Regions from separate parts of the Homo sapiens genome. Here region 1 is linked to region 2. The links come from fine-mapping of genetic effects on gene expression. A gene starts in region 2. The other region holds a variant in brackets. All regions are shown on one strand. Distances are from middle to middle. Region 1 has its middle 10 kb from the start of IRF6. Region 2 holds the start of TRAF3IP3 (TRAF3 interacting protein 3).

Region 1 (15,009 bases), 61 kb before region 2:
CAGGGCGTTCACAGTCTTGTCTGGGTGTAGGTAAGTACACAGACAATTACAATACGCTGTGCTGAATGCTGAACTGAACAATGCTGGATGCTAAGGAATCTGCAAGGACACATTTACTCAGGTGGGGGGATGCTGGTCTCAGGCTGAGCATGTGTCAGCCAGACACATTCATTGAACACTAGTATTGAACTCAAAATTGATCGAAATTATAGATATGAGGCTGTATGAGTTGTGTTTCCTGACCTCATCCACAGTAAGTGTGTGTGTTCAAGACAGGATATGACGGATATAGGACAATAGGAAATTAAGAAGCTGTGTAGTCATCGGATTCCACAGAATTTATTGTACGTGGAGCAATAAGCTTCTAGGTGGAGCAGACTTTAGAAGTGAGATTATGTCTGCGAAGAGCAAAGCTTTGTGATGCACGCTACATAACATAAAAATACAAAATATGAGTACATATGTCCCCTGCCCTTTCCATTCATCTGTACCCATAAGAAGTATCCACTGTGAAACTCAGAACCTGGAATATAGTGAACATTTATAAATATGTTTCATCAGGTGTATCAGGGATTGATTTACATTAGGTTTAGCTTAAAATGGAAAATATTTTATCGTATTACTTTAGTTGAGAACAAGCCTTAAATGCTGTTAGAGGGCATCAAGTTTTGCATTGCTCCCTCTAGTGGGACGTTGGTATAACTACATACTATTTTTCGTCTGTTGCGGCAAGGGCTCAGCTGTTCATACATTCATTCATTTTATCAAGCATTTTCTAAGCAGTTACTGTGTTCCAAGAATGACACTGGGCATGAAGGATTTAAAAAGCTCAAACATCAGACTTTTCCCTTGAAGACCTCAGAGTCTAGTTGAGAGACAAAGCAATTAACAAAGAATGACATTGTCATGGGCTAAAAGACGTACAAAAGGGTTAAAGGAACCCAGAGGATAAAGAAACTCATTCTGCCGTGGAGAAGAGGGAAAAGTTTGTGGGGAACTGCACAGAGGATGGGCTGAGTCAGGGTTTCCTGGGTGAATAAATAGGAAGAGAGAATTCCAGGTAGAGGCAATAGCATGAACAAAAGTATAGAGACGTGTTTGGATAACTGCAGTGGTCCACGTCACTGAGGTGGACGGGCAGGACAGGAGGGGTTAGAGAGCAGGCAGGTGAGGAGCCAGTCCATGAAAGGCCTTGGATGCCTTGCGGAGAAGTTGACATCCAATCCCATAAAAGGTGACGAGCTGATAAGGGATTTCAAGCAAGGAAGTTATGTGATCAGATTTGGAGTTTAGAGAAATCACAAGGATGTCTGGTGTGGGTGCCAAGGCTATTAAACCTTCCTTTCTGATGCCTTACCTGAGCAATTAGTTTGCTTTGGATGCTGCCCACCATGACTTTGGAGACTTTTTCAGCTGGGCGCTGTGGCTCATGCCTGCAATCCTAGCACTTTGGGAGGCCAAGGTGGGTGGATTAATTGAGATCAGGAGTTCAAGACCAGCCTGGCCAACATGGTGAAACCCCATCTCTACTAAAAATACAAAAATTAGCTGGGCGTGGTGGCATGTGCCTGTAGTCCGAGCTACTTGGGAGGCTGAGGCACGAAAATCGCTTGAACCTGGGAGGTGGAGGTTGCAGTGAGCCAAGATTGTGCCACTGCATTCCAGCCAGGGCGACTTTGAAGACTTTTTCATATGTTTACCAAGTGCTTCCTCCTACTTCTCAGCGTTTATTGAAACCAGGATCTCAAGTCTCTCCTGGTATAATTATCATATTTTGAGACTGTAATGAGTTCAGTTTACCAGAAACATCCATGAAATCCACACTATCCATGCTGGTCACTATGCGAATATGGTTATAATATGATGGAATCACATGGGTGAACCCAAGGGTCCAGCTCTCCACAGCTCTTAACTTCTTATGTTCTCCCTTTATCCCTGCGGGCTCAGAAACACTGCATCCATCTGCCCAACAAGTGCCCAGATAATTCTTATTATTTATTTATTTATTTTTTTGAAACAGGGTCTCACTCTATTGCCCAGGCTGGAGTGCAGTCATGTGATCTCAGCTCACTGCAGCCTCTGCCTCTCTGGTTCCAATGCTTTTCCCATCCCAGCCTCCCGAGTAGCTGGGATTACAGGCGTGCACCACCACACCTGGCTAATTTTTTTTTTATTTGTATTTTTAGTAGAGATGGATTTCGCCATGTTGGCCAGGTTGGTCTCGAACTCCTGACCTCAAGTGATCTACCCACCTTGGTCTCCCAAAGTGCTGGGATTATAGGCATGAGCCACCATGCCCAGCCGATGTCCAGATAATTCAATTCACATATTAAGCTATAGATAGATTCCCCTTAGACATCTAAGTGGAAAGGTCCAGGCATGTGGCACATCTGGAGTTCAGGAGAGAGGTCCAGGCTGCCAGGATGACCAAGCATATCTGAGAGTGGTCAGTGTATGATTGGGACTGAATGAGATTACTTAGTATAAATATAGAGAAGAAGCCTGAAAACTGAGCCCTGGGGTAGCTGCGAATTTAAGACACAGGACAGATGAAGAAGAACCAGCAAGGTGACTAAGGCAGAGCAGCCACTGGGGGAAGAGGAAAGCTGGTGTTGTCTCCCATTTATGGACTGATCCTTCTTAGGAAAGGCAGGTTTACAAAAGAGTTAAGACTGAGGATGCTGGACTCACATCGATCTGGATTCAAATCCTAGTGACGCATTAGTGCTAAATGACTTTTACACCTCATACAGGGGACTGGGTGCAGTACAGAACCTGGGGAGTGTTTGTTTGCTGAGTAATCGTTGATTCTGTACCACTGCACTCCGGGGATATATTAAGTGCCAAGGGAATTTATGTGAAAGAATGAAACAAAGTCTCTGGCCTCAGGGAGCTCACAGTCCAGAGAAAGGGAGCAGTCATAGAAGCCAGTGATTCTCCACAACATCACAGTGTGATAAATTCTCTCATGAAAGTGTGAGCCATCACTGAGGGAACAGAGAGGAGGGAGTCATTAGTCCAGCCTAAGGTGGCCTGACTTACATATGACGCATTTTTTTTCTTTTTTGCCTGTTATGTGCCATTTTGCCCAAGAAAATCACGACTCTTCTGAGCACCGTTGATTAATTTATGTGATGGCTTACAAGAATTTGTTTATTTTTGGAGGGGGAGAAATAAGGGTAAAAAATCCCAAGGGTACAGATTGTGGTCCTGCTTTTTAAAAAAATTCAGTTAGGAATTACAATCTTGAATGAAACTGAGTCTATAATTGCCTATTAGCCCAAATCAATGTTCTCTGCCTTTTGGCTGTTACCAAATCACTCCCTGGTGTAACTTTGACATCCCAGCCTTAACCCCTGAGACTATTACATCTGGTGTGGTAGGCTTCAGCGATTTTAATGTTTTATTTGGGCAGTTATTTACCTTCCATTTTGGGGGCAGCTTTTCTTCTTTAGACAGTGAAGCCCCTAAAACACCAGCTTTTCTCATATTTACTTTAACAACCATACCCACTTCTCATGAACAAGATTTTCTATCATTTTCTTGTACTTTTTTGTTTCTTCTTACTTTCTTAGTTAAGCATTCATTCTGGCTAGAACTAAAATTTTTAGAAATAAAATTTATAACTAAAAATGTTCTTTCAGCTGGGTGCAGTGGCTCACGCCTGTAATCCCAGCACTTTGGGAGGCTGAGGCAGGCAGATCACTTAAGGTCAGGAGTTCAAGACCAACCTGGCCAACATGGCAAAACCCTGTCTCTACTAAAAATACAAAAATTAGCCAGATGTGGTGGTGTGTGCCTGTAATCCCAATCCCAGCTACTCAGGAGGCTGAGGCAGGAGAATCACTTGAACCCAGGAGGCAGAAGTTGCAGTGAGCCACGGTCACACCACTGCACTCCAGCCTGGGCAACAGAGTGAGACTCCACCTCAAAAAAAAAAAAATAAAGAGTCCTTTCATGAGTTTATTATAAATTCTTGCACTGGAAATTCCACAAAGGCAGATTGCAAAACTGGTTGTAATTCAGTGTTGAATGCAGTGGAATAGTATTGCCCTTATTCTGCTAACTAATAGCTCCTCTAGCTCTATCTGAAGACACAATTAGGGATTTGGGAGCCAGATAAATGTTGGATAATTTTGTTCTCCAGCCCTAAAGTAACTGTAACTGTAATTCCTTTGATGGCTAAGGTAGATGACGGTGAATGTATTTGGGACAGGACAGGTTCTAGTGCTAAGAGAGATGAGGGCAGCCTGGGCCAGGTCTGGACATTGTCTGCTGGAATACAAAGAGAAATTTTTTTCTCAACCACACAGGAATATACCCTCAAACCCATGTTGGCTCTTCAAGAAACAAAAACACTTTAAAAATCATTAAAGGAAAGGAAATCCTGAGAATTCTGTATTCCTGATTTAAAAAGTGAAGACTCTAGACTTTTTTTCCCAAGAAAAGATAGTTAAGGTTTATTTCCTAAGTAGGATATGCTATTTTAAGAATAATCATTCTTAAAAGTTGTCTCTGTGTTTCAGTCTTTAATGAAAAGGACTGAGTTTCTTTTAATGTGGGATTCTCAGTGAGGCTGAGCTTCTATAGGGTTAGATTAGTAGGAAGTCCATTCTTTCCCCTGGTTTGGCCAAGTCTCTCAAAAATGCTAACCCAGTCCAAAGGGTCAGTCCTGATTACCCTCATCTTGAGTAGTTGCTGTTGAAATCTGGCTGTGTTCCAGGAGGCAAAAGCAGACATTCTCCCCCATTCTCCCCTTTCTTCTTTCCCGGGTCCCTGTAACTTGTGATACTCTGCTTCATGTCTGCCATGCAGGACTAGCTGTCAATGGCACAGCTCTTTAGGGTCCAAACTCTTCAGTTCACAAGTGCTAGCCATTTCCCTAGCAGTCCCATAGGGTCAGGTGAATGGGTTGGAAGGAGGTGTCAGTGTCAGCTGCATGCTGTTTCCAGAACCAACTCCCCGTCTGATGGGTTCTAGGCCCTCTGTCACCCGTCCAGAGTCTCCTCTCTCATGGTGAAGCTATTTCAGAGGGCTTTTCACCACTGTCTGTCATTGAGCCTCTGTCAGAGAATCCCTTAATGACATGTTCTGGTAACCCTGAATCTCAAAGAGGCCAGGTCAGTTATGCTCAATTCGGGCTATGATTATTGTTATTGAGCACTATTTGCTGTCTAAGCCTCAGTTCCTATTAAGTTAAACTGAATGAAAGAGAAAATGGGTGGGGAAGAGCTAGCTCTGCTGCTCCCAGATGAAGGTGTGCGTGTGTGTGGATGCATGGATGTGTGTGTGTGTGTATGTTGCGGGGAGAGGAGCAAACTTTAAAGACCAAGCCCTCAGAGTGCTTTCCTCTGCACTCTAGGGCTCTTCCCTCTCATGATTTTCCAAGAGAATCTAAAGCACAACCAACATAAAGGTATTAAAAAATAGATTCTGAGTGACAGATAAATTTTATAGCCTCTTGCTAACTTGCCATGATCATAGTCTAGATTTTTTTTTTTTTGAGAGAGAGAGTCTCACTGTGTTGCCTAGGCTGGAGTGTGGTGGCATGATCTTGGCTCACTGCAATCTCTGCCTCCTGAGTTCAAGCAATTCTCCTGCCTCAGCCTCCCAAGTAGCTGGGATTACAGGCACCCGACACCGTGCCTGGCTAATTTTGTATTTTTAGTAGAGACAGGGTTTCACCATGTTGGTCAGGCTGGTCTCGAACTCCTGACCTCAAGTGATCCACCTGCCTCGGCCTCCCAAAGTGCTGGGATTACAGGCATAAGCCACCATGCCTGGCCCATTTTGACAATCACAACAGGCCAAATTCTAATCACATTGTAGGTATGCCAGGAAACCCCAGAGCTGTCTGGTAAGAGCCCTGGAAACCCAGAAAGAGACAGAGATGCTTCTTTGGCCTATCAGGAATAGATTAATTTGGCCCAACCCAATTAGTAACACAACATCTTCTCTATGCTGGGCCACTGGGGAATGAAATGCTGCAGCTCTTTCTGTGGAAGAGTTTATCATCTCCTTGGGGAATGCAGAAGGATGCACTCCTAGAAATAATTAAGACAACAGACTCTGTGCAGGGCTTCTGGACATGAACTTTCCTACCCTGGTTACCATTGCATGACCAAGCTGCTTTAGCAGAGTAATGCTTACATGTTCTTTGCCTGGTCACTCTGCACAGCCACAGCCTGACTCTTGGAATCAAGGAAGCATTTGCTTCTAGTGGTCAGGGCATGTGGGATGAGAGGTAAGACCACAGCAGCGGACATCCTTTCTGACTGGGTGCAGAGCTAAGGTTGAAATGGTAAAGCTTTGGGATTTACCATTCACGAGGTGTTTTCAACCCAGGAAAGCAGACACAAACAGGAGAGATGGGGTCCTGTGTCTGGAGATCTGGGTGCCCTGTTTTGATGAAGAATCATCTGAAAGGTGAAACAAACAAAAAATATGAAACAACCTCTATATCTAAGTCAGAATGGGGTGGGAACAGGGACTGGGGCTAGGCTTGGGTTAGAAGTGGTGTCCATCTCCTGGGAGAGTGTGGTGGGGATTTCATACAAGAAGGGAAGTCCCCCAGTTTCCTATGGGACTATGAGACAAATTGCTTTTAATTATGTTAATTACAACAACAGAGCACTCCACTTCTCAGGAGAGCTTTTCATCTTCAAAGGGGCTCCAGGATGGAGCATTAACAGTTGTCATGAAAGTCTCTGGAGTTTGAGAACTGAAGTCAAAGGAGCCCTAGCTATGTGGGTTGGGGCCCGTGTATGCCCTGAAAAGCCAATGTCTAAGGGATTCTCTGGCTTCAAGGTTAGGAGCAGGTCAAGGCAGGGGTATATGTCTGGGAATTAGCCCTACCTCACTGAAATCAGAGAGGCAAAGGAATGGGCGTGCCAGCCTCAGTCCAGTTCCCTCAAGCCCCGACTCCCTTTATTGGGATTGCCAGTAAAATCAAGGATCCCCAGTTAAATGTGAATTTCAGATAAACAACAAATAATTGTTTAGTGTATTCATGTATTCATTGTTTATCTGAAATTCACATTTAACTGGGCATCTTGTATTTTTATTTGCTAAATCTGGCCACCCTATCCTATATGCTTCTCTCCCCCAATACACACACACACACACACACACACACACACACACACACACACACACACGTGTCTCTCTCTCTCACACACACACACACACACACGTGTCTCTCTCTCTCACACACACACACACACACACGTGTCTCTCTCTCTCACACACACACACACACACACACACACAATGAGAGGCCCAGCTTCCAACCTGACAGACTCCTACCTGAGAGGTCAGCAAGCCTAGGCGTGTTCCCCTGGGGCAGGGGAACAGAACTCTCTAGACCTGCCCAGGCCCAGCCTCTTTCCCTCCTGCATGTGGGAATGTGAGAAAACTCCTGTCTCAGTTCTCTAGGGGGAGGATCTTCAGGGCTGGGCAGCTGGACATATAGTGCATCCTTCCCAACACCTTTATTTACCTTGGAATTTGAGGATGAAGCAGCCTGAGGAATGGACTCTCTAAATCTTCCTGATCCTTCCCTCCCATCCTTCCTCCTCTGTTTGCTTAGCTTACCTCCACTCCATGGCTCTTGTGGCTTAAGGGGGAAACCTTTGGCCACCCACCCCCATTGCCCCATACTGCTGGCATGGAAATTCCTCTGTGACAAAAAACAGAGAGAAAAGGTCACTGGGCTGAGATGAGCTTCCTGCCTAGGCAGTGGAATCCAGGCTGCCAGGACGGGTCTGGGCCTGAACTAGAAATGCTGCCGGTTTCCCGGGCTGGGTGGGGAAGAGAGGACAAGCTGGCACTTGCCACAGCACAGAATAGTAACTGGGAGGTTGCGATGCCTGCTCTGAGCCTGAGCGAAACTCTCAGGGCCTCCAGACATTGACGCAGGTAGAGAGGTTCCCAGGCCCCAAAGCTCCAGATTCAGCCCCTGGGCTCAATCAGGGTCAAGGATAGAGCATGCTGCCTTCTTCCCACCCCCAGGACAGGCAGATGGTCACACATGTTCACATTCTGGGGTATTACTTCAGGCCTTTGGGTAAGATTAACATTCCAAAGCTCCAATCCTCAGGTTCCCCTTCATGACCTAATAGAAAGGGCATGGAGTCAGACAGATCGGGCAGAATCAACTTCCTACTCACCATTTACCAGCTTTGAGACCTTGGATAAAACTCTTAAAAACTAAATTTT[T/A]AAAAAATCCCCTGATGAACCAAGCTGAGTAGCTGGCAAAGCTGTGCAGGGGATTTCCAAACAGAGAGGGGCAGAATACGCAGCCACAACTTTTCCTTCAAAGCGCAAGATTCTGGAACAATTCCAGAAAAGCTAACATAGGTAAATTACTCTTAGATTTGTATTGGGGAACAAGAACAATAACAACATTCCCCCTGTGAATAGCCATAGTTGGTAAAACATGCTAGTGTTTCCTTCCCTCCTTCTCCTTTCTTAATAAATCAGAAGTGCATGAATTAAGTATCATACACTTAGCTCATGGGCACCATTTAAATCATTACCTGGCAGTTATGAAGAATGTGGAACACTGAAGTTCTTTATTAAATGTTTATTGAGTAACTGGCTAACTAGAGGAAGAGAGAAAGGAAGGGAGGAAGAAAGGAAGTATCTATTTTATTTCAACTGAGTAGGACTTAGTAGAAATTATGACTCTTATTTTACTTTTAAAAACATTTATTTATTTATTTACTTTGGCCATTTCCACTCAAAGGACTGACTCTTATTTTAGAAGCCTCCAGTGCTGGTACTGTATTTCCTCAAATACCCCTTTGCTAGGTCTACTGTTTCCCTACCACCTTCCATTTCTATTCTGCAGCAGCTGTGCCCAGCTCTTCTCATAGTGTTTTGTAAATAGTGAACTAGAGCAGACAAGAGCTTTGAAGCTTCCTGGCTACCCCAGGGAATTAAGCTGGCAAGGCACCTGGCCAGCGTAGTCTTGATGGGTCCTTCTTTGGATTCGAAAGGCCCAGGAGAAACTGCTACTGCTAGCAGCAGCTCAATAGTATGCAGATGTCATTGTGCTGGGGAGGGACAGGTGGTGTGTAGGCAGCCTTGTCTCTGATTCTTGGGCCTGAACAAAATAAGAGGGGTAAAACAGTCTCAGAAGGATCAAAAGTTTCCCAGGGGATTGAAAACCGGGTGGAGTCATGCACAGGACATTGGTAACATGTGGGAGCAGCCCTGGGATAGGGGGCGATAGAAGGGTCTGATGAAGCACTCTTCCTACTCTTATTCTATGTCTCTTGCAAATCCACTTGCCTATTTCGAAGTTCAGGGATTTGGACTTGAACTTGAGCTTGACCACTTCTCATGTGATCCTGGGGATTATCCTTTATGGGCCTTAGTTTCCTCAAGAATAAAATAGAAATGCTATCACTAACCCACACACATGCATTTAGCAAAGATACGTTGAACACCTAGTGTGTGAGAGGCCCTGAGAACACAGTAGCACAGACAAAGCCTCTGTCCTCTTGGAGCTAATTCATACTCCAGGAAAGAAGCCCCCAAATGGCAGCTCCTGTGGGGTGTTTTATATGGCTCATGTAATTAAAAGTTAAAAAATGCAAATGTATAAAAAATTAGTAGATTTTACATAAAAAATCTAGATTTCCCAGTGGCAACATTGGACCTGTATTTCTGTCCGGCAGCCGTCAGCCAGAGCTTAGTGGCTGCTTCTTTTAGAAAGAAAGCACGCTTTCCAGGTAGCCACAGTCCTCACCATTTCTAGACACTCTTACCTTGCCCAACCTAAACAATATTTTTGTTTTTTTACCCAAAACTTTTCAATGCCCCTCACTGTAAAGAGGAGAAAGTCCAACTCTTTGATGTCACATTCAAGGCCTTCCTTCCAGTTCTGTTTCCTGCCTAATCGATCCCTGCAAATGCTACACTTCAGCAAACTGCAGTTTCCTGACTATCCCATGAGGTACTGCTGAACTATTATAATATTATCCTCTTTGCCTGAAATGCTTTTTTTGGTTCTCCTTTTCTATCTAGAAAATGGTTACTGAACTTTAAGGATCATCTTAAACATTCCCCTCTCCTTTTGTGAAGACTTCTGCTGAGAAAATACTCAGAGGGTCATGTGAAGATCCTCAAAGATGGAAATGGTCCACTTGAGACCAAAAGGCCATCAATGGCTCTACATCCTATGTTTGATTGGGCACGGGGCCCTCCAGCTGGTCACAATTTGTAAAAAGCCTCAGCTTTCTCAATAAATGGGAACAAAATATGAACATTAAAAAAGATGTCTGTAAATGAACTTAGATAACCATGAAAAGTGTTTGAATGGTCATTAATGCTTATTAAGCAGTAGCTATTGTTCCAGCTGTTGTTATTAATATTCCAAATGGAGGCAACTTCATTAAAGATGGTAGATCAGCAGATGCAAAGCATATTCAAGGAAGACAAATTTATTATGGTTGAAGGGTAGCAAAATGGTAGAAGATATGGTTGGAAAAGTAGGCTAGGGCCAGAGAGGGGCCTTCTAACTGGTCTCTCTCTGCCTGACCTTTTTCTACCTTCTAGCTTAAGCACAGCAGCCAGATTAATTGTGCAAAACAAGTTACCTACGTCACTCCTCTGCTCAAAAGCCTCCAGTGACTCCCGCTTACTCTCAGAGTAAAAGTTGTTACCTCTCAGACCTCATATGCCCCACCTCCAACTCTCCCCTTGCCCCAGCCACACTGGCCTCCCTGCTGGTCCTTTAGTGGGGCAAGTATATTCCTGCCCTGGGGCTTTTTACTTGCCGGGCCCTCTTTCTGGAATAATCTTCCCTCTGATACCCACTTGACTCCATCACATTCTTAGCGCTCTACTCAAATGTCATCTTCTCCCTGGTTAGTCCACGTAAAATTTGGATCCACTCCACCCCCTCCTAATCTTTTTCAGTTGCCCCCTTGTCCTTCTTAGAACTTGCCATGGACTTACATACTTTACTTGTTTATTGCCTGTCTCCCCAGCTAGAATATAAGCACCACGAGGGCAGAAATTTTTGTCTGTCTTGCTCACTGCTGTGTCCCCAGCACCTAGAACAGAAATTTGGCACATAGTAGATAAACAATAAGCATTTGTTGGATGAGGGAATAAGCTTTCTTGATTCAGTAAGCATTAGGAAATCACAGAATGTTTTTGAGCAGGACAGTGATGGGACTGGAGCTCACAGAGGGCTGTAGAATAGATTGGAGTGGGGCTGAAAGCTGGGAGTTGGGAGGTAGTCACTATAGCAGAAGGGCACATATGTGAAAGTTTAAACAGAAGGCTTTCATAGGAACAGGAGACAATATGTTTCAAAAGGGTGGGGATTCTTCTGGTGTATAGTGCTCAATAAAGATTTACTGAAGGGTGAATGAAGGAATGATGTTTGTGTCTCATGTCAGGTAGACCCAGGGCCCTGGTCTTGGTCTGTCTTAGAAAAACCAAAATCCTATTTGCTCCTGACTTTGGGGCTCTCCTGGTCAGGGGTTACATGAGATTGTTATTGAAAATCTCTTATTTATATATACATCTCCCCTTTCTTCTTTGACTGGGCTAACCCTCTGTAGCATCTAGCCACTTCTTAGGCCCAAGCTTAGCTTGGACAAAGCTGAGATTCAAGCTGTAGAAATTGAGGTGGGGTTTAGGCTGTCAGTGTCTGGGGCAGGGACCAGATAGAATCACCTTTTTGAATGTTATGCAACTGGAATTTTAGGCAATGTGGAGAAATTAGTGTGGCAGGTAGTCCTTAGGCCTTCCCTGGCCAGTCCAGAGCCACTCAAGAGAGTGGAACTCCCCATGGAAACCATCTTTACCTTTTTCCACAGAAGGCCAGGGTAATTGGATAGGAGGCCAGTATAGGTTGAGGCTGAGCATTGGACTACATGAAGAGAACATTCTGACAGTGGAGGGGTGAAGGGTGGGGCTGCTACTTGGTCAAAGAACTTCTGGTTTCTACCCTGTCTTCCCTGTCCCTTAGCCATATCTCCTCAAGGGAATTCTTCACTAGGCTCTGAGAGTCACACTTGGGCCTTGCTCTTAATCCAATCAGCAGAGAAGAGATACTTTGTGTCCTCGCTGTCCCAAGAACAAATACACAGTAACACTGCAGGTTTTAATTAAGTGAATACCAGGTGCCCTGAACTGTGCCACATCCTTGCCTAGAGTTGGGGAGGGGGATGCAGCAATAGAGAAGAATGATATTTTCTAAGATGTGGTATTGTTTTATTTATTTCATTGAATCCTATTGTCAATCCCATGAAATAGGCAGCATTCTCATTTAGGAGGTGAGTAAACTGAGGCTCAGACTGCCTGGACAGTTAGGAAATGAGAGACGGGAAACTGGAGACAAATTTTGACTCATTCCAAATCACAGTTAGTTTTTCTGATGCAGCTCTGCTGTCATGGAGTGCCAGAGAATAGTCTGACACCCAGGTCTCCTGACTCCCCAAGTGCTCTTTCTTCTTTCTTGAAAACAAGTAATGATAATATTTTCGTTAAATAGTATATAAATCTGCTTTAAGATTTAACCAAATAGGACTGAAAGCTTTATAACCAAATCATCAGCCCCCACACACATCCTATTTTTGTTGAAATAATATTTTGTCTCCTATTATTTTTGTTGAGCTCTCTCATCCATTCTTATCTCGACTCTCATGCTTTTTGTCATCTCTTAACCTTATAGATTAATATGTTTTAAAAAAATTCCTTCACTGTCATTGATCACCTGAGGTGATCTGGGGTGGTGGGGGGTGGGAGAAGAGAAAAGCACATTTGGTTAATCACTCATATTGAACAGGAATCCAGCTTCTTGCCACACTGCTCCCCGAAGATTCTGTACTCCTGGAGTCTTCATTTTCTGAAATCGACACATTGTCCAGTGCTCTGTAGCTCAAACTGAGCCTAACACTCTGCTAGTTCCTGTCTGGCCTGCACCTTGCTGCCCTTAGGGCTTGACTGAAGCCTGGAGAGAATTATCTACACAAAGGAAACAAAGAGCAGATAACAGCAGTGATGGTCGCTCCATCTGCACAGCACTCCACCTGTTTCAGAGAGCGTCCATATCCACTATCTCATTTCAAAGCAGCATAGAGTCACAGGATAGGTTGTTTGGTGCTGACCATGAAGCCAAAATCCGGCCACTGTTTTGTCTCAATGGGGAAGCAGCTTTGAATCAGAACTCTGAACTCTCACATTCATGGTGGTTGTAGTTTCTTCAGCTCTTTTGTCTGCAGAGCCAATGAGAAAGCTCTCCATGCTGGGGAAGATGGGAAGTGGACCCTCAAGCTTTGGAATGAATGGGCAGAAGAATGAAGGGAGGGCCCCAAGGGGGAGCTTACTTCCAAATAATTTCCTGGGCTTTGCTTTTCCTCCTTCGCCTCCCATAGAGATCCAAGTTTGGAATAAAAAAAACTGCTTCTTTGAGAACACTTTCCAGTGCTCAGCTTGCTTCAAGGATAAAAAGGGTCTTCTAACTATGGAAAGACTCAGAAGATGTTCTGAACACTTTGGTGGAGAATTCTTCTAGAGTCCAAAGCCAAAGTCTGTGCCATTGCTTGGATTGGAAAGTGAGATTCTTTTATGCTTCCTGCCATCTTGGTGATTCTAGAATTTGGAGGCCATTATAGAGTGCAACAACCAGAGTGCATTCAGTTTAGGCTGTGGCTTAGGCAATGTGTTAGGATCACCTGTGGCCCTGATGCTTTAAGATACTTGGATGGAGACAGAGATAAGCCAGGGCCAAGAGAAAAGTGAGGGTAGACCTGATGGGCTCCAGAATGCCTTCCAGAAGGAAGGTTGGAGTCTGATTTCCTTTGAAAGCACAGAATTGGATTGTTTAGTGCAATGTCCCTACCTGACTCTTTAGCAACTCCACCAAAGGTGCACAGCTTCTTTGCTATCACCAACTCCAGTAACACTAAACTCTCCACTGTATGGAGCCTTTGGGAGGAGTCCCAGTTGCCACGCTTTCTGCTCTGCCAAGAAGAGAGTGGGATTTGGGTTCATGGTTTTATTGTCACATGTCTGATATTGTAGAGTTTAAAGTCTCTGGGTGGAAAAAGAAACTCTTTCCTACCAAATGAGAGCTGACTGGGAACAGGAGAGGGGAATTCCCTCATTCCCTGTGGCTGTGAATCAGGGCCCCCGTGCTGAAATGTACGTCCCACTACCTGAAACTCAGACTCACTAGTGAGTCAGCAATGCCGCACCTGATTATCAATGGAGGGCAAAATGATGGGAGCATTGCAGGCCCAGGGCATGTTGGGAATGACTGAATCCTGAAGAGGCTCTTTTGAGAATACAGAAGAACTGATTCCTCAAGAGCTTGTGGAAAGACTCACAAGATGTTCTTATTCCCCAGATCAAGCAGATGAGGCGTGTATCAGAATAGAAGACATCAGGGTGGCCTATTGTCAGGGCTTGTTGCCTGCAGAGCCGGGGAGTTCCTCCTGATCTCTACCTTAATTCCACCTGCTTTACCCCCTTTCATTAATTCTTCAGTTGAGTGACATGAGAGTAGGGACTTGGTTTTGTTTATGGCAATATCAACAATATCAACAGTACCTAGATCCATGGGTGATTTTTTTTTTTTTTTTTTTTGAGATGGAGTTTCCCTCTTGTTGCTCAGGCTGGAGTGCAATTGTGCAATCTCGGCTCACCGCAACCTCCACTTCCTGGGTTCAGGCAATTCTCCTGCCTCAGCCTCCCGAGTAGCTGGGATTACAGGCATGCGCCACCAAGCCTGGCTAATTTTGTATTTTTAGTAGAGTTGACCATATTGGTCGGTCCGGTCTCCAGCTCCTGACCTCAGGTGATCTGCCCGCCTCAGCCTCTCAAAGTGCTGGGATTACAGGTGTGAGCGATTGCACCTGGCGATTTTTTTTTTTAAATCGTTAACAGCCAGTGCAGAACAGGTCAGAATAGACTTTGGCTGCGGAGCTGAGCAGGGGTCCAAGTGGATAGAGCCCCGGGTTTGTGTTCTAGTCTTGGTTTGTGGCT
Region 2 (15,009 bases):
GGGGGTAAGTGGATGGAGGAACTGAGGGGAGGGGTCACATGCCACTTACTTTGAGGTAATCAGAAAGCTGGATGATTTCCTGGAGAGAAAGAACAAGGGTATTCAAAATGTCTGTAAGTCCCCTGAAACCCTGGGATATAGAACCAGAGCCTGGGCTGGCTTGTGTAGAGCAAACCTCTTCTGCTTTGGCTCTGACAGGGTCCCTTTAGTCCCCATGTCTATGCTCAGTACCCCCTTGCCATCCAGGAAGAAGATGCCCCTCCATCCCAGCCAAGTTTATCATGGAATTCCAGAATGTCAGAGCTTAATACTTTCTGATTTGACCCCTTCAAAGTGAATATGTGCTTACCTTATCCAGAACTGCAACTCCGTAACTGGAAAGAGAAGAAATTAAAAATAATGATAATGGACCAAAGAATCAAGTCAGGAGGCAGTGGGTTGATTCCTTCTGAAGAGCCAGTAGGGTGGGGAAGGGCTTCCTCTTTCTTAATTAAGGCGGACATGGAAATTCATTGTGTTCTCTCTAGAGAGGAATGGATGGGATGTGAGAGGGTTAGGGTCAGGAACTCACTTGGTTTGCTGACTGGCATCGTTCTTAATTGTTGGTCCTTCTGCCTTTGTCTGAGTACCTGAGAGATGGAGGATAAGTTGATTTAGAACTTACAGGGAGGAAGTGAGGGAAGTGGGGAGGGACAGGGACTCTCCATTGCCAGTGAGCTGGGACAGTTGTCTCAGGATTCTCTGCAGGCCCTGTGGAGTGAGGGAGGCTCTGCTCTTACCACGGTGGTGTTTGGGTGGCTTCTTGATGGGAGTGTCCTGTGGAGGAAGGCCCCCAGCCTGTGAGGAGAGGTGGTCAGACAGATCCCTGCAGATGCCTGAGGGAGGAGGATGCTGGGCTGGAAAGACTTCAGAGCTGGTGCCTGTCACCTGGAAGGCAAGTGGGGAATGCTGAAAACCACTGCCTGGAGCCTCTTGAAAGACTCTCCTGATGATTTCGGAAGGAAGAACTAACCATCATGTTTGTTATGGACTGAGTGTTTATTGTCCCCCCGCCCAAATCTGTGTGTTGAAATCCTATCTCCCAATGTGATAGTATTAGGAGGTGGAGACTTTGAGAAATAATTAGGTCAGAGCAGGTAGCCCTCATGAATGGGATTAGTGCCATTATTAGAAGAGACACGAGAGAGCTTGCTTTCTCTCTCTGCTCTCTGCCTTGTGAGGACACAATGAGAAGAAGGCCATCTGCATAGTGGGAAGAGTGCTCTCATCAGACACCAGATCTGCAGAATCCATGGGTTTAGAACTCCAGACTCCAGAATTGTAAGAAATAAATTTCTGTTATTTAAGCCACCCAGTCTGTGGTAATTCATTACAGGACGAAGACAATGTTTCAGATCCACAAAACCAAAGTAGCCCACTCAAGCTTTCAGAGCCACACAGGCTTCTCCTGCTCCTGATATCCTTGTCCTGACTGGCAGAAATGGTCCTCCTCAGGCCAGGCATATGTGGAGCTGTACTTTTCTCCAGGTTTTCTCTCTAGAATCTCTAGTTGTTGTTTTTTTTTCTCTCTCTACCTTGTTTGGTTATGGCCACTTACATAGCCAGCATGGTGATGTGGAAAGAGAACTGGTCTGAGTGGGGAGTGAGGGGATCTGGGTTCAGATCCCATCTTTTCTAGGTCTCAGTCTTCTGTCTGTGTAGTGAGGAGTTTGGAATAGATAATCCATAAGGTTCCTTCCATATTCAAAGGAAAGCCTCCTTTCTCTTAGTAACAGCTAGAAAATCATTGAGGTTTTGTGTGAAGACTAGGTAAAGTGGGGAGTTGTGGGAAGGTTTTTTGCTTTAGTATACAGTTCCTTTTCTTTTGCAACTGGGCTCTAGGATCATTTCTCTGAACAGCATCTCCTATTGAGCATAACAGATCCACTAGTTAAGAAGCCCTGATAGAGTACCCACTCTGGGTAGGGAACAATGCCAAGCATTACCATGGAACATAGTGGACACATCCCTGCTGTCAACATGCTCACAACTTCAGTAGGAAGATGGTTTGCTGGCCAAGGTCATCTCAGCATACCCTGGTTTTTGCCAACATTGTTCCTTTCCAGGCCAGACTAATGGGCCCTCTAAGGGTTACACAATCTTAGAAGATTTTAACCTCACAAGGCCCATAGACAGCAGAGGTGGCCTGGAGAAGCCAGGGAAAGCTTCCTGGACCAGATGAGGCTATAGTCAAGTGATTTAATAGAATTGGAATGACACAAGAGGAAGTGAGAAGAGTGGGCACAACAGCCTTGCAGAAGAAAAGAGGACAGATATGTCTGTGTGTGTGTCAAGAAGACTGGCCTGTGTGCTTGGCATATAATAAGCTTTCAGTAAATATTTGATGACTGATGGATGAATGAATGCTGTAAGATAGCTGTAGAAGACATGTGTATATTGCCTAAATTTGAACTGATATAGGCATTAGCTTTGGAATTATTTTTATTTATTTTATTTTTAAGTTTTTTAGAGATAGGGTCTCCCTCTCTTGCCCAGGCTGGAGTGCAATGGTGTGATCATAGCTTATTGCAGCTTCAAACTCCTGGGTTCAAGTAATCCTCCCATCTTTGCCTCCTGATTAGTTAGGACTACAGGTGTGCACCACCATGCCTGGTTAGTTTGTAAAGTTTTTGATAGAGACAGGGTCTTGTCTCTATCAAAAGGCTGGTCTCGAACTCCTGGCCTCAAGTGATCCTCCTGCCTTGGCCTCCCAAAGTACTGGGATTACAGGTATAAGCCAACATGCCCAGCCTGAAATTGTTTTTAAAAATTATTTTTTCTCTCTTATAAGTCAAGTGCAGAACAAAAAGAGCTAAACAAACGAAAACACAACAGCAAAAATCTCTGAATAAGTAGCTGTTGGCAACTTTACTATAAGTAGCTCTTGGCAACTTTACTATATGACTGAGGAAGAAGGACTTGATTTAGGTCACTTTTTAGTGACCTTGAGCCCACCCACCCTCCTTGTCCAGAGAGGGTCCCAGAGCACACAGCAGTATGTCCCTTGACACGGCCCACCTGCTCTCTGGGAGAAGAAATCCTTCTGGCACAAGACAAGGGTTCCTTGAGGACAGTCACCTGTCCTGGCCGCCTGGAGGGCCCTTGCTCCCTGGCCTGGGGATGCTGCGCTTTGCCCTTCTCCTCTAGCTCCAGGTTCCTCCTCCTGAAGAACTGCTGCAGTCGAGCTCTCTGGAGCTGCTCTCTCTGTTGGATCCTCAGCGTCTTCCCCACCTGGCGGCAAGTGGTCACATTGGGACGGCAGCGGCGGCTTTCACGGATCTCTTGCCTGCGCTCACACTTGGCCTCATAGCTCTCAGCCCACCGGGCCAAGCCAGGGGAGGGCCTGGGGTCTGGGCTGATCATGATGACCTCCAAGCACCTGTTGCGCTTGGCTTCCAGTTCCTGGAATAGATGCCTGGATCTGCCAAATGCCAAGAGGGAGGAGAAGGGGAGGGGTCAGAAGATGGGCAGAAAAATGACTATCTCCCTAGACCAGGGGGCAGAAATAGCACAGAGTTCCATCCATGTGGGTTGAAAACTGAGGACATGGTGGTATCAAAGTGGGAGTCAGGACTCTTGGGCTCAGTCTCTAATGAACTAATACAGTCTTATAAAAGTGAATTCCTGCTTTTCTCTAGCCGATGTTTCCCCTTTGTAAAGTAAAAGGGTCTCTATGGCTGCCACTTACTCCTTGACTGAACATCTTACCATGCCTCTGAGTCAGGGGAACATGAGAAATAATTGATTAAAATCATAATGAGCTTATAGCCTCTTGGATGGCAGGTGTGTGTTCATTTTCCAGACTTCTAGAGAAGCAGCTAAGTTGAGCCAATCTGCCCTCTTATCCCCCAGTTGAAAAGGAAAGTCAGTATCTTTACTGGTCTCTTGGTCCAAGCTGTCACTAACATAGTTGAGTGACACTTCTCAAGGATCTGGAGGGCTAACCACACCCCCTCAGGTGGTGACCAGTCCTGTGACCAGCACCCACTGCTCTCTTCTTGACTTTTAGCAACGAGCTTGTGAGCCTGGACCTGGCATGGTTTAGGAGGGAAACCCTACCCTAATTCCTCCAACCTGCTGTCCTGACAATGGTCCATGGGCCCCCCACTCCAAGCTCAGGACTGGGCTGTGTCTCTCAGGTGCAGATCAAGTCCAATCAATATTGACTGAGCATCTGCCACATGCCTAGTGCTGGCCAAAACCCATTTCAGAGCATCTGGCTCCAATACTGTTGGGGCTGAGGGTTCCATTTCTTTAGGATTACCAACCTGTCAGGGTTAATGTTGGTGCCAAGTCTGCTTTCCTTAGCCCAGACACAGATTGTGCCATCCAAACCCACAAGCACATGAATTGTACCTCAATAAGGCTGCTGCAAACAGAAAAGAAACAAAACAAAGACAGTAATCAGAAGTTTCCAGGGAGCCAGGCTTGGTGTAGGGGCCACAGGATGACCCTCTGCATGGCCTTACCTGATATTCACATAGCACCTAGACCTGAATCCCCTTTTCCTTCTCTGTGCCTTTCTCTTTCCTACTCTTCCCCACCTACCTTCTGTAGTTTATCCTCCTAGAACCCTCTGGTCACTTTGCTGAGTTGGGCTGGATTTGGATGAGCTGGATCCTGAGCGTTGGAAATTCTGTGTCCTGCCTCCTCTGATCACTGGAGTCAGACCAGGGACTGATGAAGGAAGAGGGACTCCCCCTCACAGCTGCTGCTGCTTCTCTTCCTCCCACGACCTCATTACCCACCACCCTGGGAGGAGGGTATCTCAGCTTCACCAACTAGCAGGCATTTGCTAGCTCTAACCCCTTGGGGTTTATTTATAGGCCAAACAGACTCAACAGGTAGCAGACTCTCTGCCCCTTTACTGGGACTTCGCTACTCTGGCTCAGTCTGGAATTCTCTGCAGGATTCTTGTTTTCTCTCTGATCCTACCACTCATTCCCCAGGGTCATGGGTGGGGCAGTCTTCTTCCCTGAGAGGAGTTTTGTGTGGTCAAGCCCTGGACACTCAAATGCCTGACTCTTGAGGGTTGGAGGGGCATACTCTGGTGTCAGGCAGCATTGATTCCAAGCAGAAATGTGAGGTTATTAATGTTTGTCCTCTACATACCCATTCTGAATGGCTCTCTTCTTTGTTTTTCCTTACTTCTTCTTCTCGGATAAGGGTGGGAGTGGGCATAGGGGGTGGTCCCTTGACTTCTTCCCTGCCACTTTCTTTATTTAAAGACTTAAAAGAAAGGGTCTGAGAGACCCATGTCTATTGTTATAAATGACTGAATGGAGGAGACGCAGGATTATGTGCATGTGAACTCCATGTCTAGAACCTACACTCACAGCATCCCTGAGCCACAGCCCCTGGCTATTCTGCCATGGATTGCAGTGGAGAACCCTGGCTCTTGGAGTCACACTGCGTGGACTCATGTCCTGGCTCTGTCACCTACAACCTGTGTGTGTTTTTAGATAAGCTATTAAACATCTCTAAGCCCCAGTCTCCTCATTTATAAAATGGGGCTAGGACCTGCCTTGTAGGTTATAAGGATTAAATGACAAAATGCAGGCCATGCACCTGGCATGGAGCACACAATAAATGTTACCTTTTAATAATAAAGACATAAAGTATTCCTATTAGGTTGGTGCAAAAGTAATTGCGAATATTATCCTTGTTATGCCGATGTTGGATATTGAAGACTTGGTGCTGTAAGACAAAGGCTCCAAGCTAAACTAGCACTTCTAGGACCAAGAATGCCTTCTCTCATCCTCTCAACCCTCTCTCTCTTTGACAGAGTATATTGTTTACCAGATTGAGGGGATGCTGGCCCCAGGCTGAAGTCACATTTACTTCTGACCTCTGGGTTTGGGCTATAAGGAGAAAGGCTTCTCTGTGGTCTGGACATAATTGCCATCCCAATTACACCAAGCCGAAAGGTAAGGAAGAGATGGGGTCTGCCTGTGTCACACATAAGGTGTGAGGTCCCCTCCCTGTTTGGCTCAGCTTCCCCACAGGTTTTGTAGTGGAGGCAGAACATTGAGAATCCTCCTACCTTCTTGCCGCGAAGAGGAAAGGGCTGTGGGGGAGAAGACAGTGCCTGAGATGAGGTCTCTCTGGGCTCTCCACCCAGGCCACCAACCTTAGTCCACTGAAACACACAGCTGCTCTGCTCTCTGCTTCCTTGGGGCAGACATGGAGCCTTCTTACCCAAGAAAGGAGCTGCAGTGGAAATGGCTCCTTAGAGAGGGGAGTGTTCCCAGATGCCTTGGCTACCACACCTGCTAGGATTTGGTGCAGCATGCTGCATAGAACCCTACCCAGGTTTCTGGGATATCTGGACCCTACTGACTTGCTTGAAAACAAGAAGGTATGTGGGACGGCTGACAGGGGTAGGCTGCTAAAGAAAAGGGAACTGGTCCCTGTAGGGTTCAAAGAAAGATCACTTGGCCACTGCCCAGGCTTTCTGGCATCTCTCAGGTTCCCCCCTGGCAGCATGACTGGGCTCACTTAGAGCTTGGAGGAAGAAGGTTTACTGGCTGGGAAGGCTCAGCCTGGTCTCTCAGGCTGCAGAGAGAGAACAGGGCATGGCTCCTCACCTGACTGTGGCTTGACATGCCTTTCTGAGTCTCGCTTTTACTTCCTGGCCATGTTTGTAATGGAGACAATGAATGGCTTCCTGCATGGGTTGGCCTTCCTGGCCCAGAGCTCTCAGTGTGAACTGAGGGGAGAGGGGCCTGCGCTTAAGCTGCTGGGAAGGCAGTCTTGTGTTCAGGGATCCCTGCTTTGAAGAAAACTGTAAAAGGTCATTTAATTCATGCCCATATCACTGGGTAGCCTGAACTCTAAGTCGTTTGACTCACTCCTAATCTAATGTAATCTAATCTACTGGAACAGAGGAGTGGTGCAAGCTGTACCCTGTGCCATGGCTAGCGCCACAGGAAACCAATACAGGATACTTTCTTGGTTACCCAAACCCCTGACACCCTTAAACTATGCCACCCACTCTCCACCCAGGGGAGCTGGGATGGTAGAGCATCTTCTGCCCTACCCCGAAGTTGGAGTTCCCAAACCTGGACACAAAAGCATCCTCCTTCTCAGTTACCTCCTAGTCCCAGGCTCCAACTCAAGCCACTCGGGAAAGCATTCCAGTCCTGGGCAGATCTTGGCTCTGGTCTCAGATGGAGCAAGACAGCAGATGGGTAAAGCACACGCTTTCAATCCATAGGTCTGGGCCCCATTAACACGTCCCTTCTTGGTACCGTCTTTCTTTTTGCACAGCAGCCTTGCTGAAACAGGAAACAGACAAAGCCACAAGGTTCGCAAACCCCAGTTCCTCTCTCTTGCTCTCTGGTATCATCTAAGTGGGCCCCTGAACTCTGAGGCCTCCAGGGCTGGGCTCAGGAGCTCCTCCCATCAGTAGGCACCCCGGCCACCCTTTCTCTTGCTACTGGATTGGTCGGAGCTCTTGGACAGTTTCAAGTCAAGATTCCTTTCCATGATTAGAAAAGGATAGTCCTCTGGGTCAGATTCAGACCTTTGTGGTTTCTATGAGAGGGAAAAAAATGCCTTTTTGGTGGTAAGACCTAGATGAGATGTTCTCAGTGTAGGCTTTCATGTGTATCAGGTAGTTCTTTGTGTAAGGATTTTCCTTTTTCTTTAGCCACCTCTTCCCAATCCTGGTGTTGTAAAGAGTTTCTGCTCTTCTGAAGTAGGTGGTGTCTTTCTCAGATTCTGGAATGAGACCAACTCTGGATTTGCTCCTTTCTGGAGCAATGAGGAGGGAGTGTAAAGGTGGGTAGCTGGGGGATGAAGGAAGGAATAGAAGGCAGAGTCTTCTACACATTTTTTTATCTGGTCAACCGGACTAGGAAATTTAGGGAAAAACTAAAGGGAACTGATTTGCATGCATTAAGATGAAGCCATCACAAATGATGCAGCCAGGAAATTCCCAAGAAGTTCAGGCTAAAATAGTGGAGAGGAAACTGGATTGGGACAAGTTAACTGAGCAGCTTTGTAACCTTGTAAAATTCACCTTGTCTGGATGCTACTCACTGTGGTAGTTGGGTGATGTATGTGGCTCTTTGGAATTCTAAGGTTTGACACATGTGAGGCAGGTAATGAGACTTAAAAATAGCTGTGATAACATTTATTAACATGTGGAGAGTTTGTCACCATTTTCTCTGCTTCTGCTTCTTTCTCTGTTCTTTGAGGAGAAAAAGGACAAGGAATCGGCAGGGAAAAGCAGAGGATGGATTCTCAAGCACTAGGACTGAAGACAAGTGGCATTTACTCAGGATGAGAGACAACAGCTCAAGGCCCTGTGTCTGGAGCTTGACACATAGAGATGGGAATGAGTAGAGGACAGAGGGCTTGGGGAGCCCAAGATGTCAGAAAAAGAGAATTTTGGCCGGGCACAGTGGCTCACACCTGTAATCCCAGCACTTTGGGAGGTCCAGGTGGGTGGATCACTTGAGGTCAAGAGTTCAAGACTAGCCTGGCCAACATGGTGAAACCCCATCTCTACCAAAAATATAAAAAATTAGCCGGATGTCATGGCATGTGCCTGTAAACCCAGCTACTTGGGAGGCTGAGGCACAAGAATCGCTTGAACCTGGGAGGCAGAGGTTGCAGTGAGCCAAGAATGTGCCACTGCACTCTAGCCTGGGCGACAGAGTGAGACGGAGTTTCACTCTTGTTGCCTAAGCTGGAGTGCAATTGCGCGATCTCGGTTCACTGCAACCTCCGCCTCCCAGGTTCAAGCAATTCTCCTGCCTCAGCCTCCTGAGTAGCTGGGATTACAGGCATACGCCACCATGCCTGGATAATTTTTTGTATTTAGTAGAAATGGGGTTTCAACCATGTTAGTCAGGCTGGACTCAAACTACTGACCTCAGGTGATCCACCTGCCTCGGCCTCCCAAAGTGCTGCGATCACAGGCATGAGCCACCACGCCTGGCCAGAGAATTTTTATTGGCATAGAAGAGTGAGAAGATTCTGGGAGTTCAGGGCATTAGAGCGTAAAGAAAGACAGGAGATTTTAATAGGAGTTCCTATAGAGACCTACTATTTGGACTCCATTAAACATCAGAAAGAAATGTCTACAAAGTCCGCAGTCATTGGGATACTAATCCCATGATAACTGGGATTTAGAGTGGTCAATGATATGCTCAAGATCACACAGAAAGTGTTGGACCCAGGTTTGCTTGACAGTAGGTTTGAGCCCTTAACATTGTGTTCTGAGAACAAAACAATTAATAAGGTTGTCATACCTATCTATCTATATTGAAAAAGACACACACACACACACAGAACTTTGAGAATAGAAAATATACCTTATTTTCAAATGCCCACGAGACATTAAAAAAATTGACCATATGGATCAAAAAGTAAACCTCAGTATATGTTTTGAAAAGTTGATCTATTATGGCAGGATTTTCTGACCACAGTACAATACAATTGAAATAAATAACAAAAGATGGAAGAAAGAAACACTTTAACTTCTTGGAAAAAAATTCTTCCCATTTACTCTGAAAAGATAGAGGGAATTTCAAATCTGCAATTAAGAATGCATTGAAAACGGTGATAGTGGCAACATTATGAGGAAAATCTGTGAGGTATGGCCAAGCAGAATGCAAGGAAAATTCCTAGCTTTAAACATTTTCATTACCTAAATCAAGAAGATTAAAAATAAATTTCCTATTCATTTATTTTCAAATGAATTGCTAAAAAATGATCAGAAAAAAAGGAGGTGAGAATTTTGAAATGATAAAAGGAGAATATATAATAAGTTAGAATCCTGTTTAAAATTGATAAAAAAAATTCAGTTTTGTGTGTGCATCTGGCAGGGGGAGGAATGGTAGACATACAAATAGAAAACAAAATCAATAAAATAAAATATCAGCGAGCCAAATCAATTTAAAAAAGAGAAAAGACATTATAAAAGTTTAGGAATGATACATGGAAAGTAGCCACGATACGGTGGAAATTAATTATAGAGAGTCATTTGTGTAACTATGCTAATGATTTTTAAAATCTAGATAAAATGGATTTAAGAAAATGAATTTACCAAATTAAGCTCAAGTAGAGATTTGTAGTGTAATCATCAGCTGGCCTCCAATAGAGGGTTTAATTCAGGCTGCTCTTGAGCTGGGCACCAGGCTTTTAGTGGCCAGTATCCTTTGCTTCTCCTCATCATTTCCAGGTTCAATGGGAACAACGGCTCCCTTTTTTGATGGTCATATTCTGAAACAGTTTCCTTGATAGATGCTGGGCCCTGTGTAGTCCCCCATGAGGCGATGAGTATGGGGTAAGCTACCCTTTCCTTTATAGCCTGGTTGCTTCACAATACCACACAAGCATGTGTAAGATTATCAGATTTTATTGTACAGTTGGGGTAACTAAACTATATGCTAATATGACTTCTCCCATACTCCAAGAGACAGCACTAAGGAGTTAAAAAAATTTTTTTTTTCTTGAGATGGAGTTTCGCTCTGTTGCCCAAGCTGGAGTGCAGTGGCATGATCTCAGCTCACTGCAACCTCTGCCTCCCGGGTGCCTCAGCCTCTGGAGTAGCTGGGATTATAGGCATGCACCACCACGTCTGGCTAATTTTTTGTATTTTTAGTAGAGACGGGGTTTTGCAATGTTGGCCCGGCTGGTCTCGAACTCCTGACCTTAAGTGATCCACCTGCCTTAGCCTCCCAAAGTACTAGGATTACAGGCATGAGCCACCATGAAGTTAAACACTTTATGGGGGTCCCCTCATGGGTGTTACCAGTTCTAATCCCACTCCTCTTTCCACTCTACAGGGTGACTCCTACCTATCTTCTGGGAAATGGCAACCTCATTCATAAGAGTTGTTCTTGCCTTAGAATCCTTCCCTACACTCCTGACAAGGTTTCTTCAGCACCGCATTCCTCAAGTCTAAGTTATTCATTCTAGAATAGTGCTGCAGACACTCTTAATAGGATAGTCCACAGCGGCCTTGGCACTCCAAATTTTGCAGAACAGCTCAGGGCAGGCATACTTAAGTCTGTTCGCATTCAAGTTCAAGTTCTCCTTATCAGGTGACTTGCAGACTCTCCTCCTTAGTTTTCCAAGTGTCTAGCTGGTAACTGTTTACTCAGATGTCCACACAAACATCCCAAAGACAAATATTCATTCTCAGAGATGATACAGTCTAAACTCACCAGGAGGAAGACAAGTATTTCCTTGACTCCTACGTTTGCAAGGTTGCTGCTCTGTCGAGTTATGACTGTACATTTGTGGCAGGACAGAGTTCTAAGTCCTCCTCTTGTCTTTGCTTGCTTTGTATCATCATTGTTGGTAGAGAGCCTTTTCGTGTAATGAAACCTCAAATTTATGCTGTAAGAGACTTTCAATATTAGCAAGAGATTTATCTGTTGTTTAGATTCTAAGAATCTGAAAGGCCTAACCATAAGGCTCAAATAACTGTGGATCCGTTCTTGTGGGTCCAGCATTGAGCAAGGGACAAGTTACTTTTTGTTGTAGGCTCATAAGAAAGGTGGTCTCACTGGCTGTGACATTGAAGGGCCTTGACAGGCTGCAGCCTCAGGCTTGGGGGTGAAGGTGGGGTAGGTATAGAGGTAGGAGTGTATGTATATTAGGAAACAGAAAAGGAAAGAGTAATGTAGAACAGAAAAAGGGGGGCCTCCCAGGCACCCATCTCTATTTGGACGGAAAGGACAAACCACAAGTTAATCTTCAGAGAGCTTTCATTTCTCTTCTTTATCCTTCATTTGAGGTTCTGTACCCTTGACTCCTGCCAGAATATGAAATAGGGCTGTTCCTGAGTTAAATATCATAATGACTTGTCTTCTACTCATAAAATGCCCTTTTATAAATGAAAAATTACTGCTTTTTAGAGCTCAGCCGAAGCACCACCCTCCTCTCCCTAGTGTATGTGTGAGTTTTCCAATAAATAGGACTCCTAGTTTGTGGCTAAAAAATCACATTCTTTTTTGAGATGGAGTCTTGCTCTGTTGCCCAGGCTGGAGTGCAGTGGCACGATCTTGGCTCACTGCAACCTCTGCCTCTGGGTTCAAGTGATTCTCCCACCTCAGCCTCCCGAGTAGCTGGGATTATAGGCACACGCCACCATGCTGGCTAATTTTTGTATTTTTTAAAGTAGAGACGGGGTTTTGCCATGTTGGCCAGGCTGGTCTCAAACTCCTGACCTCAAGTGATCCACTTGCCTCGGCCTCCCAAAGTACTGGGATTACAGGTGTGAGCCACCGTGACTGGCCCACATTCTTTATTTAAAAGATATTCTTACGTAAATTACTGAGTTTCCAAAAATTATCATTCAACAGAAATAACAAATATGAGGTTTCTGTTGATTAAAATATACTTCTACTTACTTTTTGTACGTCATGTTTTTTCACATAGCCTAGGCAGTCAGAGCCATGATCAATGTCTTTAGCTAAGAATTCTGAGAGCCTCAGCACTAGTAACTGTACTCATGAATACTCCGATATTGGGGATGTTGGCCGTCTAACAAAATTAGGTCATTTAATAGTGTGATCCTCTTTCTGAAACTGACAATTTTCCTTCCTAGTTAAATTGTCATCTCTTGGCACAGCCTCAGTTAAACTATCCTAATTATTTCACAAATGCCTTCACATTCCAAACTGAGATATCTTCCAGAGACTTTTCTATACATTTTATACATTTCTACACAAACCTTTAGAATCTGTTTTATACTCAGTATGATTTATCATCCATAACAAAGAATATTAAATTGATGCTGTAACACTGAACCAAACTGATTTCACCAAAAGTGCTCACATATTAGATTGCCATCAGCACTCCCTGCACACGCCCTCGCCCCCGCCTGCAGAGAGAAACTTTAGGGTTTGCTTAGAAAACTAAAGGCAGATGGACAGAGAAATGAGTTGGAAAGCATTCGGATTTTCTTTTTTTTTTTTTCAGATTTATACAAATTTTAATATAATATTACTAAAAGATTTTTAAAATAGAAAAATAATTATCTTAACCTACTACCCAAAGACAAATTAGTTTCATATTTTTCACACTACCTTCTAGTTTTTGATAATATGCATTTCTTTTTAATAATATTTTAAGCATAGTGAAATCTACATTTTTGTAATATGTAATTATATGAATTGTGTGTTTGTTTTTTCGCTTAATACTATATTATAAATATTTTTTGCTTTTACATTTTTTCCATTTTTTTAGCTTTCACATCGTCATGGTCTTTCATAATATTAGTGTACCACAACGTGTTTAGTAATTTCCTTATCATTAACCAGTAGCCACGTGACCCAGCATTGCTCAGGATAATAATTAGCCACTGGCAAATACAATGCAAATACAACTTAATATACATAATAAAAATTAATATGTTATAATAATTTTCTGTAATTGTAATAATTCAGAGCTGTGATTATGTTTAACTTTGTAACAGGATTACTTTATCTATCACATCTGTCATCTATACTTCAAGACTGTTGCTCACTCTGAAGCTGTCCTGAGTGGCAGCCTGGGGCTAGATGGGCAGGGACACCAGAAGTCAGACTGCCTGGGTGTGAAGCCTGGCTTTGCCCCTTACTATCTGTTTGAGCTTAGAGTGCATGAACACTACGTTTGAGGTCTTTGCATCTCAGTTCCCTCCTCTGTAAAATGGCTATAACCGATAATATCTACTTTACAGAATTGTTATAGGATTACCAGATATAATACTTGTAAAGCATTAAGAAATGTGAGCTATCACTATTAGCAACACCTGCAATTTGGAGCATCTGTCTTGTGATTTATTAATGGTTATGATGAAATGGACTTGCAGATCTGTGGCTGTGTGAAAATGGAGTAGTTTCAGTGAGTCAATGCATTTTGTCTGATCTAAACTTGTAAGTTTTAAAACTCATTTAACTAAGTTTTTTAAAGAATGTGTCTTGCACTGTTCTCCATGGAAGAAAAACATTTGAAGTGGCTCGTAGTGTTTCTCACTGTGTGTCATTTAAATTCCATTTTAAGTTAGACCAAAACAAATGTGTTCTGACTAATAATGAGAATCACAATAGCACCTGTCTCATAGGGCTCTTTTGATGATTTAAATTAGTTAATATTCAGTAGAATAGTTCCTAAATATAGTAAATACTATGGAAGTGTTTGGTAACACAATAAAGTAAAAATAAAAATATTCCAATGTTGCAGTGAAACTCGTTTTAGTTTGCATGATATAATTAGGAATTTTATTCATGTGGAAATTATATAGAGGAATTTAATTTTATTTAATTATATGGAGATTTTTGTCATTTCTAATTTTTAGCTTTTACAGATAATGCTGCCAATGGGTATCTTCATGCATGCATTTATTTGTTTTTCTTCTTTTAAAATACTTTCTTTAGGATAAAACCTTGGAGTGGGTTTGCTGGAGAAGTTTAGTGAAGAAGTAGGTTAGTTCTGAGAGCAAAGATTTCCAGGAAGTGGGTGGGAGGGAATCAAGCTGGGCTTTAGGGCATGGTGGAGATGGCAGGGTCAGTAGAGCTGGAAGGCTCTCTCACCAGCTTGAGAGCTCAGTGCATTGGGTGTCAGCAGGGGGCAAAAACAGCGTGGTGTAGGGCAACAGGCAATGACTGGAATCCAGTGAGCTGACTTTTAGATCCGTCTCCGCCTCTCTGTTGAAATGCAAGGCTGTTTTGCCCCTGTGGGTCTCCGTTTCTTCTAAAGCCTTTCCCAGTATGAGGGTCTATGAGTTCTTTATTTCTTAAACATTAAATACCTTCTAAATGCCTAAAATTGCACTCAGTACTAGAGATGCAACAATGAGTACAATATAGTCAGTATCTTCTCTTAGTTACAGACACACAAGGCAATTTTCAGGTAAATTTAAAAAGTGTGATAAACTCAAGTGATAAACAAATACAGAAAACTGTAGAGGCATGGGATAGAGGTGGGAGCTCACTTGCCCCAGCCTTGAGAGGTGGACCGGGTGGA

Evidence for each region. PIP is the estimated chance that this variant, and not a neighbour inherited with it, causes the effect.
Region 1: its variant is fine-mapped to the expression of TRAF3IP3 in whole blood (INTERVAL, PIP 0.91).

The regions. Positions count from the first base shown.
Region 1 is chr1:209,808,956-209,823,964 of GRCh38, reverse strand. No RefSeq gene overlaps it. Among named protein-coding and RNA genes, the nearest start is that of IRF6, 10 kb to the right of the region's middle. RefSeq lists enhancers at 7,486-8,260, 8,237-8,406. The variant T/A (reference allele first, on the strand shown) is at 8,218.
Region 2 is chr1:209,748,433-209,763,441 of GRCh38, reverse strand. It overlaps TRAF3IP3 (TRAF3 interacting protein 3), which reads right to left and starts at 7,389. Exons shown (of 17, transcript NM_025228.4): 1 at 7,133-7,389; 2 at 4,308-4,408; 3 at 3,058-3,460; 4 at 780-927; 5 at 572-629; 6 at 350-374; 7 at 50-79. The coding sequence starts at 3,402. RefSeq lists enhancers at 6,817-7,226, 7,507-7,666, 11,350-11,459.